2 separate regions of the Homo sapiens genome follow, and region 2 is linked to region 1. Evidence: fine-mapped expression QTL. A gene starts in region 1. The other region holds a variant in brackets. All regions are shown on one strand. Distances are from middle to middle. Region 1 holds the start of RPS9 (ribosomal protein S9). Region 2 holds the start of LILRB3 (leukocyte immunoglobulin like receptor B3).

The links. PIP is the estimated chance that this variant, and not a neighbour inherited with it, causes the effect.
Region 2: its variant is fine-mapped to the expression of RPS9 in nucleus accumbens (GTEx, PIP 0.97).

What each region holds. Positions count from the first base shown.
Region 1 is chr19:54,198,609-54,204,095 of GRCh38, forward strand. RPS9 (ribosomal protein S9) reads left to right here and starts at 2,250. Exons shown (of 5, transcript NM_001013.4): 1 at 2,250-2,280; 2 at 2,552-2,673; 3 at 2,879-3,001. The coding sequence starts at 2,577. RefSeq lists an enhancer at 1,638-2,307 and a silencer at 2,070-2,563.
Region 2 is chr19:54,221,486-54,226,745 of GRCh38, forward strand. LILRB3 (leukocyte immunoglobulin like receptor B3) reads right to left here and starts at 1,522. Exons shown (of 13, transcript NM_006864.4): 1 at 1,458-1,522; 2 at 1,262-1,297; 3 at 793-1,077; 4 at 343-645. The coding sequence starts at 1,491. All of the region lies in intron 1 of LOC124904768 (a long non-coding RNA gene), which reads left to right. The variant T/C (reference allele first, on the strand shown) is at 3,309.

The sequences.
Region 1 (5,487 bases):
TAGCTGGGATTACAGGCACCTGCCACCACGCCTGCCTAATTTTTGTATTTTTAGTAGAGACCAGGTTTTGTCATGTTGGCCAGGCTGGTCTCGAACTCCTGACCTCAGTTGATCCGCCGGCCTTGGCCTTCCACATAGTGCTGGGATTACAGGCGTGAGGCACCGCGCCCAGCCTATATGGAGGTTTTCGGCTGAGCTGGGGGTCAGTGCCCCTCGCCCCCAGACTGTACAGAGTCAGCTGTGTTAAGATATTAAGCACCTTCAGTACACAAGACTCTGTGCTGGTTTTCTTTTCTTTTTTTTTTTTTTTTACTCTAAATCATCAAACCCTATGAGGAAAGTCCTGTTACTTTCTCCCATTTAGCACTCTTGAAGAGGCTAATTTGCCTAAGATCAAGAGCTCGTCAGTGACTGCTGAGGTTCAAACGCAGATCTTTTTTAAGACTTGAGAACCTACAGGTTCAACCACCATTATAAAACCATCTCTGTAATCACGAGGCACCCGGAATTTGTGGAGCTTGGACTTCATCCTGAAGGGAGTGAAAACTTATGGAAGTTTTTTCCTTCCACGTTTCCCCCTTCCAGATGAATAATATACGCGTGTTCAAGATACAAAAATGCATAAAATTTGGCCAGGCATGGTGGCTTACACCTGTAATCCCAGCACTTGGGGAGGCTGAGGCGAGTGGATCACTTGAGCCCAGGAGTTCAAGACCAGCCTGGGCAATATGGCAAAACCCCGTCTCAAAACAACAAAACAAACAAACAAAAAACCCATAAAACTGAACAAGGTAGTTTGTAAGATATGGAAGTACAATGCAGATGACAATAATGACGATGGTAGCTACCACTAGGCGCTTTATTTATGCCACTCTCCTCAACACTGGATAGACTCTCACTTAATCCTCACAAGCTTATGAGGTAGGCGCTACCATCATTCGCCGTTTTACAGAGGAGGACGCTGAGGCACAGAGTGATTGAGAAACTTGTCGAAGGCACTGCAGCTGGCAAGTGGTGACGTGGCATTTGAATCCAGGCATCCGGATGGTGTGGATGCCGTGGAAGAGAAAGGGGCGGGTGGGACTGCTTCCTGAGGAGATAGTGACTGCCGAGGCAGCAGCGTAGGGAAGACAACTGAAGAACACGAGCTGTGGAGACAGACCATCGCATTCGGAGTGGAGAGATGGGTGTACAGACAGACAATAACCAGACTATATATAAAAAGAGAACTCTAGGTCAGGCGCGGTGGCTCACACCTGTAATCTTAGCACTTTGGGAGGCTGAGGCGGGTGGATCACTTGAGGTCAGGCGTTGGAGACCAGGAGTTCAAAACCCCGTCTCTACTAAAAATTTAAAAATTAGCCGGGCATGGTGGTGGGCGCCTGTAGTCCCAGCTTCTCGGGAGGCTGAGGCACGAGAATCGATTGAACCCGGGAAGCGGAGGTTGCAGTGAGCCGAGATCGCACCACTGCACTCCAGCCTGGGTGACGAGAGCGAAAAACTCCGTCTCAAAAATAAAATAAATTACTGATAATAGTACTAATACCCCTTAAGTGGCTATTGATAATAATAGTACCATGGGTGGGGGGGCAACTTCTCTGAGAGTGCTCTGTAAGTATGTATTGAAGATTGAGTAAATACATTTAAAATTCTTAGAACAGTATGTGGCACATAGCGTTCCAGAATGCCACATTATTGTTAGTGACAGAAATAATCTCGGCTGGGCGCGGTGGCTCACGCCTGTAATCCCAGCACTTTGGGGGGGCCACGGCGGGAGGCTCTCTCGAGGCCGGGAGTTCAAGACCAGCCTGGGCAACATGGCAAGACGCCGACTGTTAAAAAAAAAAAATGCTACCCGGGCGTCGTGGCGTGTGCCTGTAATCCCAGCTACTGGGGAGGAGGTGGGAGGATCGCTCGAGCCCGAGAGGTTGGTCGGGGCCTCAGTGAGCCGAAATCACGCCACTGCACTCCAGCCTGGGCGACGGAGCGAGACCCTGTCTCAGAAAGAAAAAGAAAAACCACCGTCCAGGGGCGGAGAAGGAAGGTTCTCCCTACTTCTCAGGTTTCCACTCCCTGGCCGGAAAAAACCTAGTCCTCCCAGGTTAGCACGCCGCTCTAGCCCAGCCTCACGTCTCCACTGCTTCTCAGCCAGCCAACGCCTCTTCTGATTGGCTCTGACGTGCGTGGTGCGTGAAAACGTCACGAGACGCCGGCGTTACTATAAGAGCGCAGCCGTGGCGCTTCCGCGCCTCTTTCTCAGTGACCGGGTGGTTTGCTTAGGTGAGGTGCGGTGGTGTGCTTTTTCTCTAGGGTTTGGGTTGGATGGTGGCCCGGGCCTTCCGAGTTTCCATGAGTAAGCTAAAGACGTTAGGAAACAGAGCAGGGTGGTTGAACGGGAGTGCAGCACGGTTGTGGGGGCAGATACTGACTATGAGAGCGTTGGAGGTTATTCTCGCGAGATCGGATCTGGGCTCCGCGAGGTTTTGGCGTAGTTGTGGGACTGCGCAGGCGCCGTTTGGATCCCTTACGCTCACACTTCTCTCCCGCGCAGGCGCAGACGGGGAAGCGGAGCCAACATGCCAGTGGCCCGGAGCTGGGTTTGTCGCAAAACTTATGTGACCCCGCGGAGACCCTTCGAGAAATCTCGTCTCGACCAAGAGCTGAAGCTGATCGGTGAGTGGCCAAGGCTTCCGGGAAGTGGTTCGGCTTCCGGGAGGCGGTTAGCACGTGGATGAAGGTGCCCATGTACTCTATCTAGTCCGTCCCCTAAATTTGGTACTATTCGTGGTTTAGGAAGGTTTTGTGATTCCAAAGCTGCCAGTCTAGTTGTTGTGCCAGTACGTGGGACTACACTTGTCCACCCCCTTCTCCCCACCAGGCGAGTATGGGCTCCGGAACAAACGTGAGGTCTGGAGGGTCAAATTTACCCTGGCCAAGATCCGCAAGGCCGCCCGGGAACTGCTGACGCTTGATGAGAAGGACCCACGGCGTCTGTTCGAAGGTGCGTATGGGAGTCCACAGCAGAGGGATGGGGTGCAGGGCTTGTGAGGTTCATTCTCCCTTCTGTTGCCTCTGTTCCAGTGATGAGAGTTGTGTCATTGGATAAATGGAACCAGCCTTCTAACTTTTAGTGGCACTTGTGGAGTAGGAAAAGTGTATCTGGATCAGTCTTTGCCCTGTTTCTTAGGTGTGTGGCTTTTTTGCCCAGTTATTGGACCTTCAGTTTAGTAATGACCAGAGCTAAAGATAGGCCTGGCACACCTGGGCACCCGTCTATATCTTTATATTCTGTTTATGTGGCCTGTTTGCTAGTGGATGAGAGTAGACTATGAAGTGGAATTTCTGGGCTAAGTGATGGTGATAACAGGGTTTGCACATTTGCTTGGTTTATTGTTTTTTTAATTAAGTTTTCTCGTTTTATTTAGTCTTTTGAGACGGAGTCTTGCTCTGTTGCCCAGGCTGGAGTGCCGTGGCGCCATTTCGGCTTACTGCAACCCCCGCCTCCTGGGTTCAAACAATTCTCCTATCTTAGCCTCCCAAGTAGCTGGGACTACAGACAGGCGCACGCCACCACACCTGGCTAATTTTACTTTTGAGACGGAGTCTCGCTCCATTGCCCATGCTGGAGTGTAGTTGTCGCAATCTTGGCTCACTGCAAACTCCGCCTCCAGAGTTCAAGCGATTCTCCTGTCTTAGCCTCCTAAGTAGCTGGAATCACAGGCATGGGCCACCAAGCCTGGCTAATTTTCTATTATTAGTGGAGATGGGTTTTCACCATGTTGTCCAGGCTGGTGCTTGTTTTTTTAAGCTGGTCAAGGACATTTAGGTGGTATTTAGCAAAGGCCTGAACAGGAGAGAACCTGTAAAATGTCTCAGGGAACAGCATTTCAGGTGATGACTTTAGGAGGGCATGCAGATCACATAGACTTAGGCTTACTTTACTAATTGTGGTGAAATACACATTAAATTGAAAATGTACCATCTTAACCATCTTGTTTTAAAATCTACTCTGAGATGCGGTGTTATTGGAGTGCTTTCTACAGCAGATTGGCATGACCAAGATTGGCATTTGTATATCCTGAGACGCTGCTTTTGCCTGAGTTTGGGTAGTCATGATTTATGGTGAAAAGCAGTCTCTACACCTGAGCCCTGACTGTTAGGCATGAGAGTGGTCATCCATGTTAGGCGTTGAGAAAGTCCTGGCGCATGTTTAGCTACAGATTATCACAGTTTGTCCCAGGCTTGCAGATGTTAGAAGCTTTTTCTTTAAATAGGCACAGGATCTTGCAGTGTTGACCAGGATGGTTTCCAACTCCTAACCTCAAGTGATCCATCCACCTCAGCTTTCCAAAGTGCTGGGGTTACAGGTGTAAGCCACCGCACCTGACCCTTTCATTCTTTTCGTCAATTTGTAGACCCCGTTGATAATCTCATGAAAGTGCTGGAGATCCCTCCCCCATAGATACTGATGCTGGGTGGGAATTCATCCCAGGGTTCTGTGGGGAGTGGGCTATAGCTGGTTCTGGTTTTAGGGAGGACTTTCTGGACATAGATCCTAATTGCAATGAAACTTACAGTCATGTGAGAAAGCGGTGCAGGTGTCTGAGGGTTATTTGTGGTTTTCCAAGGCAGAAGTGAAAATTCCCAAGGGGTACACAGTTGTTCAGGTGAGTACACTTTCTAGTAAATGAAGCCATCTAGCCTAGTCAGGGACAGGAAGGAGGAGCTTGGATGTTTGCTCTTTGGTGTAATCCTGCCTTGATTCAGATCCTGCCTTTCCCACTAAGATGTGTGACTAGCGAGATTCTGAGTCTCGTCTGTTAAGACTGAACAGCCGCCAACATTTGGCTGGCAGTTAATAATCAACAGATAGAGGCCAGGCGTGGTGGCTCATGCCTGTAATCCCAGCACTTTGGGAGACCGAGGTGGTCGGATCACTTGAGGTCAGGAGACCTCAAGTCAGAGACCAGCCTGGCCAACGTGGTGAAATTCCATCTCTACGAAAAATACAAAAATTAGCCGAGCATGGTGGTGTGCCTATAATCCCAGCTACTCGGGAGGCTGAGGCAGGAGAATTGATTGAACCTGGGAGACAGAGACTGCAGTGAGCCGAGATCCGCGGCACTGCACTGGGTGACAGCGAGACACAAAACAACACGAACTCCCCCCCCACCCCCCAGCACAACTGTGAAGAAATGTAGGAGTCATGTCCATTTTTCAGATCAGAAATGAAGGCATTGTAATACCTAACTGCCTTGTATGATGACAAGGACCTGTTTCCCACTGAGGTCCTCCCTGGTTTGCATTTTTAAAGCATTTTAAATTCTCTTGGTGCATTGGCCCAGTGGAGCCTCAGCAGTAGGACATGCTTTTGTTGAAGGTGTAAGGTTTATTGTGCTGTTGAAAACTATTGTCTTCATACTTAAAGGTTTTGCCTGTGGCTGACTCTCCTGTTCTTTTTCAGGAGATAGATGGTTCAATAAATGT
Region 2 (5,260 bases), 23 kb after region 1:
TGACCCCAGGGCCTCCTTCTCACCCGGGGCTGTCTTGGAGTCATTTCAGAGGAGTGGGGTCTCCCTAGCCCTGGCCACTGTGCCTGATCTTTCCTCCTCTCCCTGAGAGCTGGGACCTCACAGCAAACACACCGATGCCTTCCTGAGTCCTCCCCTTCCAGGTGAACGTGGTCAAGGGCTCCTCCTCCCATGTCAGAGCCTCCCCATGGGGTCTCCCTCATGCCTTCAGCCCGTCCTTCAACACATCACTCTGGGTCCTTTCCAGATTCAGTCACCAGCCAAACTCCCCACAACCTGTCAGCTGCCCCGAAAGTGTGTTAGACAAGGCCGTGGCTCCCTCACCTGAGGGCAGAATCTCCAGGGGGTCACTGGGGTGGGACCACACCCAGGGGGTGTTTGTATAATAGTAATAGCATGTGAACCTCCACCTGTGGCTGGGGGTCACGGGGCCCACAGGGAACAGGGCCTGGAACCCCCCACTGTGGAGCTGCTGTGAGTCCAGGGTCCGGGGGAGCTGGTGTTCTCCTTCCTTCATCAGAACAAAATGGTGATATCCCTTCTGTGAGCCACATCGGAGGGTCATATTCCCCCCTGAGGCCACCACAGGGCTGGGCAGGGCTGAGAGGGTGGGTTTGTTGTAGAATCCTAGGAGAGAAAGAGGCACCGTGTTAAATGGGGCTCCCACCTCCCACATCATCCCCAGGGCTGGGCTGTGAGAGGGAGACGCCCCTGAGAGCCGACCCCCTTCCTGAGGGCAGAGCCTGGGGCTGGGACCCCAGAGTGTCCTCTCACCTGTCATCACCAGCTCCAGGGGGTCGCTGGGCTCTGACCAGCCTGCAGAGCTGTAATAGTGGCAGCGGTATCTCCCTGCATGGTGCTGTGTCATGGATGGGATGGAGAATCTGGCCTTGTTCTTGGGTTCCAGTGGGTTATTTCTGTCCCAGGGCTCTGGGCTTCCCTCTTTATCCAGTTGGTACTCCTGGGCCTCCAGGCTCCCCTGACACCAGATGGTCACGGGGCTCCCCCAGCTGATCACAGAGCCTGGCTCAGCCCAGAGGGTGGGTTTGGGGAAGGGCCCTAGATGGAAATCAGAGGCTGGATCCCAAGACATCCCCACGCTCAGATCCCAGCTCCCAGCCCCAGGACTTCCCCATCATCCCCATCAGTCACCCAGAACTACTGTCTCCTCCCCCAGCTGCCCATGGGTGGCCCCCTGTCCCAGTGAGGAGTAGGGACCTGGGACAGCTGGGGACAGACTCACCTGCCTGCATGCGGGTCCTGGGGCCCAGACTCAGCCCTGGAAGAGAGTTCCCTGTGAGGCATTTGCCCTGAAGCCTGAGCAGGTCCCCGCCCGGGTGCCTCCTGAGCTTTTGAGGTCTCCTGATGGACCAGGGCTTGTGTGTGGGGTGGGGTTCCTCCAAGACTCGGATCTCCCCCTCCCCATCTTGAAATCTCACCAAGGCAGAGCAGGGCTGTGAGGGCGGGCGTCATGGCGTCTCCTCCCGGTGACCCCGCGCTCTGCAGAGGGATGAGCCCTCAGTGCTGGCAGGACAGAGAGACACACAGGGTGTGGCCGCTCGGAGGCTGGGTCCTTCTTGTCATGGGGTTGTCTCATCCTCAGCCCACAGGAAGAGGAACTGCCACCCCAAGAACCTGGCTCTGATTTCCCCAGGGCTGAAGTGGGGGCAGGCACCAGGCTCTCTGCAGGCATTTCAGAGAGAAATGGGGTCTCCCTGCCCCCGGGCCACTGTCTGCCTGATTTATCTTTATCTCACTGAGGACGGGGACACAGCCGCAAATAGACCTGGTGCCTTCCTGAGTCAGCCCCTTTCAGGCGAGGGTGACCGTGGGCTCCTCCTCCCTCTCAGAGCCTCCCCATGGGGTCTCCCTCCCTCCTTCAGCTCGTCCATCAGTTCAGCGTTACGGGGTCCTTACCATGGCAGTCGTCTCTCCAGCCCTGGAGATGCTTCAGGGAAGACCCAGGTCCATGCTGCAGGCAGACTCAGATCAGCAGAGACGCACCTGACACCTGGCTGTGTAGTCCAGGCTGAGCTGCGTGTGGCAGTGAGCACAGAGAAATGCAGGGTCTACCGTGGTGGCTCATGCCTGGAATCCCAGTACTTCAGGAGGCTGTGGCGGGTGATGGCTTGAGGCCAGGAGCTTCAGACAGTCCTGGGAAACAGACTGTGACCCTGTTTCTACAGAAAAGAAAAAAGTGAGCTGGGCATGGAGGCTCATGCCTGTGGTCCCAGCTACTCAGGAGGCTGAGGTGGGAGGATCACTTGGGCCCGGGAGGCGGAGGCTTCAGGGAGCTATGATCACCCCTTGGCCTTCCAGCCTGGGCGACAGAGCAAGATCCTGTCTAAAAAGGAGAAATAGAGGGGATAAAGAGAAATATATATATATATGTTTCATTGTAATCTATAATCTGATTCTGGGGAAGGTGAGCTGATTTGTATTTAATTCCTGATTATCATCTAGGGTTTATGTGACTTTGGACATGAATGTCACCTCTGAGCCTGCTGTCATGAACCCCACTCATCACAGTGGCTGTGGGGGTCAGTGGTGCCCAGGACATGGGAGGCTCAGCCATGGTGAATTTCCAGACCAGTTCAGACAGGAGGGTGGGGACGGGAGAGGATCCTGGTGCTGGGCTCCACAGTCGAGGAGGATGATTGACGCCCCCACTCAAGAGCCCACATCGGCTCCAAATACCATGAAATTCTCCTTGTGATACGTCTGAAATATGCAGATCATCACAGCCACAGGCAGAGAAAGAGGAAAAACAGTTCCTCACATTGAGACGCATCCCCTTCCATGAGCAGAGTTCAATGCTGAGTGGCCACAGGTGTCTGGGACCACCGAGCGTCATTAGGGAGGAGGAGGCTCCCACCTCCATGTGGGACAGAAGAGGAACCCCACGTCCTCCCAGGCAGGGAGGGGTCAGGGCTCTGGGTGAGGCTGGAAGCGGTGGCTCCCCCTCCCCTGTGTGTGTGGACAGGCGCTGGGGGGTCTCTGCTCACTCACTGGAGGCCACGGTCAGCGCTCAGCCCCTCCCCTGTGTGTGAGAAACAGATTCGATCCACGGTGGTCAGACATGGGCGTCTGCCCCACAGGTGAGTGTGAGGCTGGCGTTGGTCCCATCGCTGCTGGGCACAATCTTGAGCTGACACTGAGTTTGGGGGAGTGGGGCAGGAGCAGCGGCAACAATCCCCTTCATCAGGCTGATGCCTGGACAGCCGTGGGAGAAACCCTTTATGAAAGGCCAGGTGCGTGGGAGGAGCCGCCCCACAGGAATGACAACCGTA[T/C]GAGGACAAAATAGACAGTTGTTGAAATGCATTAGACAGACATCGTGAAGGTGAAAAACTATATTAAATTAACGCCATTAAAAAGGAATTTATGTCTGGGCATGGTAGTTCATGCCTGTAATCCCAGCACTTTGGGAGGTGGAGGCGGGCAGATCACTTGAGGCTAGGAGTTCGAGACCAGCCTGGGTGACATGGTGAAACCCCATCTCTACTAAAAATACAAAAAATTATCTGGGCGTGGTGGTGAGTGCCTGTAATCCCAGCTACTCGGGAGGCTGAGGCAGGAGAATCTCTTGAACCTGGAAGATGGAGGCTGCTGTGTGCTGAGATTGCGCCCCTGTACTTCAGCTGGGACAACAGGAGCGAAACTGTGTCTCAAAAAAAAAAGCAATTTACTAACCATATATACCTACTATGCAAACATAACAAAATCAAAGCATAATTTAATCCAGGGCAAGACAGCTGAAATAATAAATATATACATTGGGATAAAATATTCATGAAATTTTCCAGACTGTATCATGGAAAGAACAGAAATTGAACAATAGAAAATATTGATATATACACGAAGTTGAATGAGAAGAAAGAACGTGTCTGTCACGGTTTCAGAATGAAAGAAGGAAGAAGGATGTTAGTTCATGATATGCATGAAGAGCTAATGGTTGAAATTTTTACAGAACTGAAGAGAAAACATCAGTTTATAACTAAATTGAATATCTCGATCATGGTAAAGTGAAAACCATGAGGCATTAATTTAAAATAATCATAAAACTACCAGAGAAAATGTAAATTACCCTTGAATGAATGACAAGTTCATCGGGACTGGAGTTCCAAAGAGCAAACAGCAGCCCCAGAAGATACAGGAGAAACAACCACAAGCGTTTAACTGTGAGGAGAGAGTTCCTGTGCTGGGCCTAATTATTACTATTATAATTATTTATTATTATTATTATTATTATCTTTTGAGATGCAATTTCGCTCTTGTTGCCCAGGCTGGAGTGCAATGGCGCGATCTCGGCTCACCGCAACCTGGCCTAGTTATTATTAAAGGACCGAGTTGCAGTGTCAGCTGTGGATAAATCCTAGAACATAAGGAGACTCGGGGCACTCGTGACCCGTCAGGTCAGGCGGTGGCCTTATGAGGAATAAGGAGGGCGTTTTCAGTGTCCTTTTATCAGGTACTATGATAACAACAGAGAAAGAGAGAGATTGAGACAGACAGAGAGAGACGGAGAGACAGAGAGAGATTGAGACAGAGAGAGAGAGGGAGAGGGAGACACACACACACACACACGGAGAGAGACAGAGACAGAGAAGCAGGCATCGCTTGAGCTGCAAGGCTGCAGACATGTTTGCATCTGGGCTCTTTCTGAAAGCAATACTAAACAATGTAAATCAGGGAGTGGAATAATGAACCCCAAATGGAGAAGATGAGATGCTACTGTGAATAAGTCAACAGTACATACAAAAAACGAATAAGCATAGATCTATCTGTAATCTGTGTATATACAAGTATATGCATTTCTACTAAGAATCTGAAAGAGCAAGGAAATGGATTCGCGTCTCTGGAGCCTCCAGAAAGGAATGCAGCCACGTTATGGCCTTGATTTTGTCCTAAAAGACTGTGAGATAATGAGTTTGTGTTGCTGAAGCTGCTCAATACGTGTAATTTGTTATGGCAGCAATAGCAAACCAATACTAACACAAACAGCCTTTGAAAAGAAAAATAGATGATATTTCACACTTTTATTTATTTATTTATTTATTTTATTTTATTTTGAGACGGAGCCTCGCTCTGTCACCCAGGCTGGAGTGCAGTGGCGCGATCTCGGCTCACTGCAAGCTCCGCCTGCCGGGTTCACACCATTCTCCTGGCTCAGCCTCCCGAGTAGCTGGGACTACAGGCGTCCGCCACCACGCCCGGCTAATTTTTTACTATTTTTAGTAGAGAC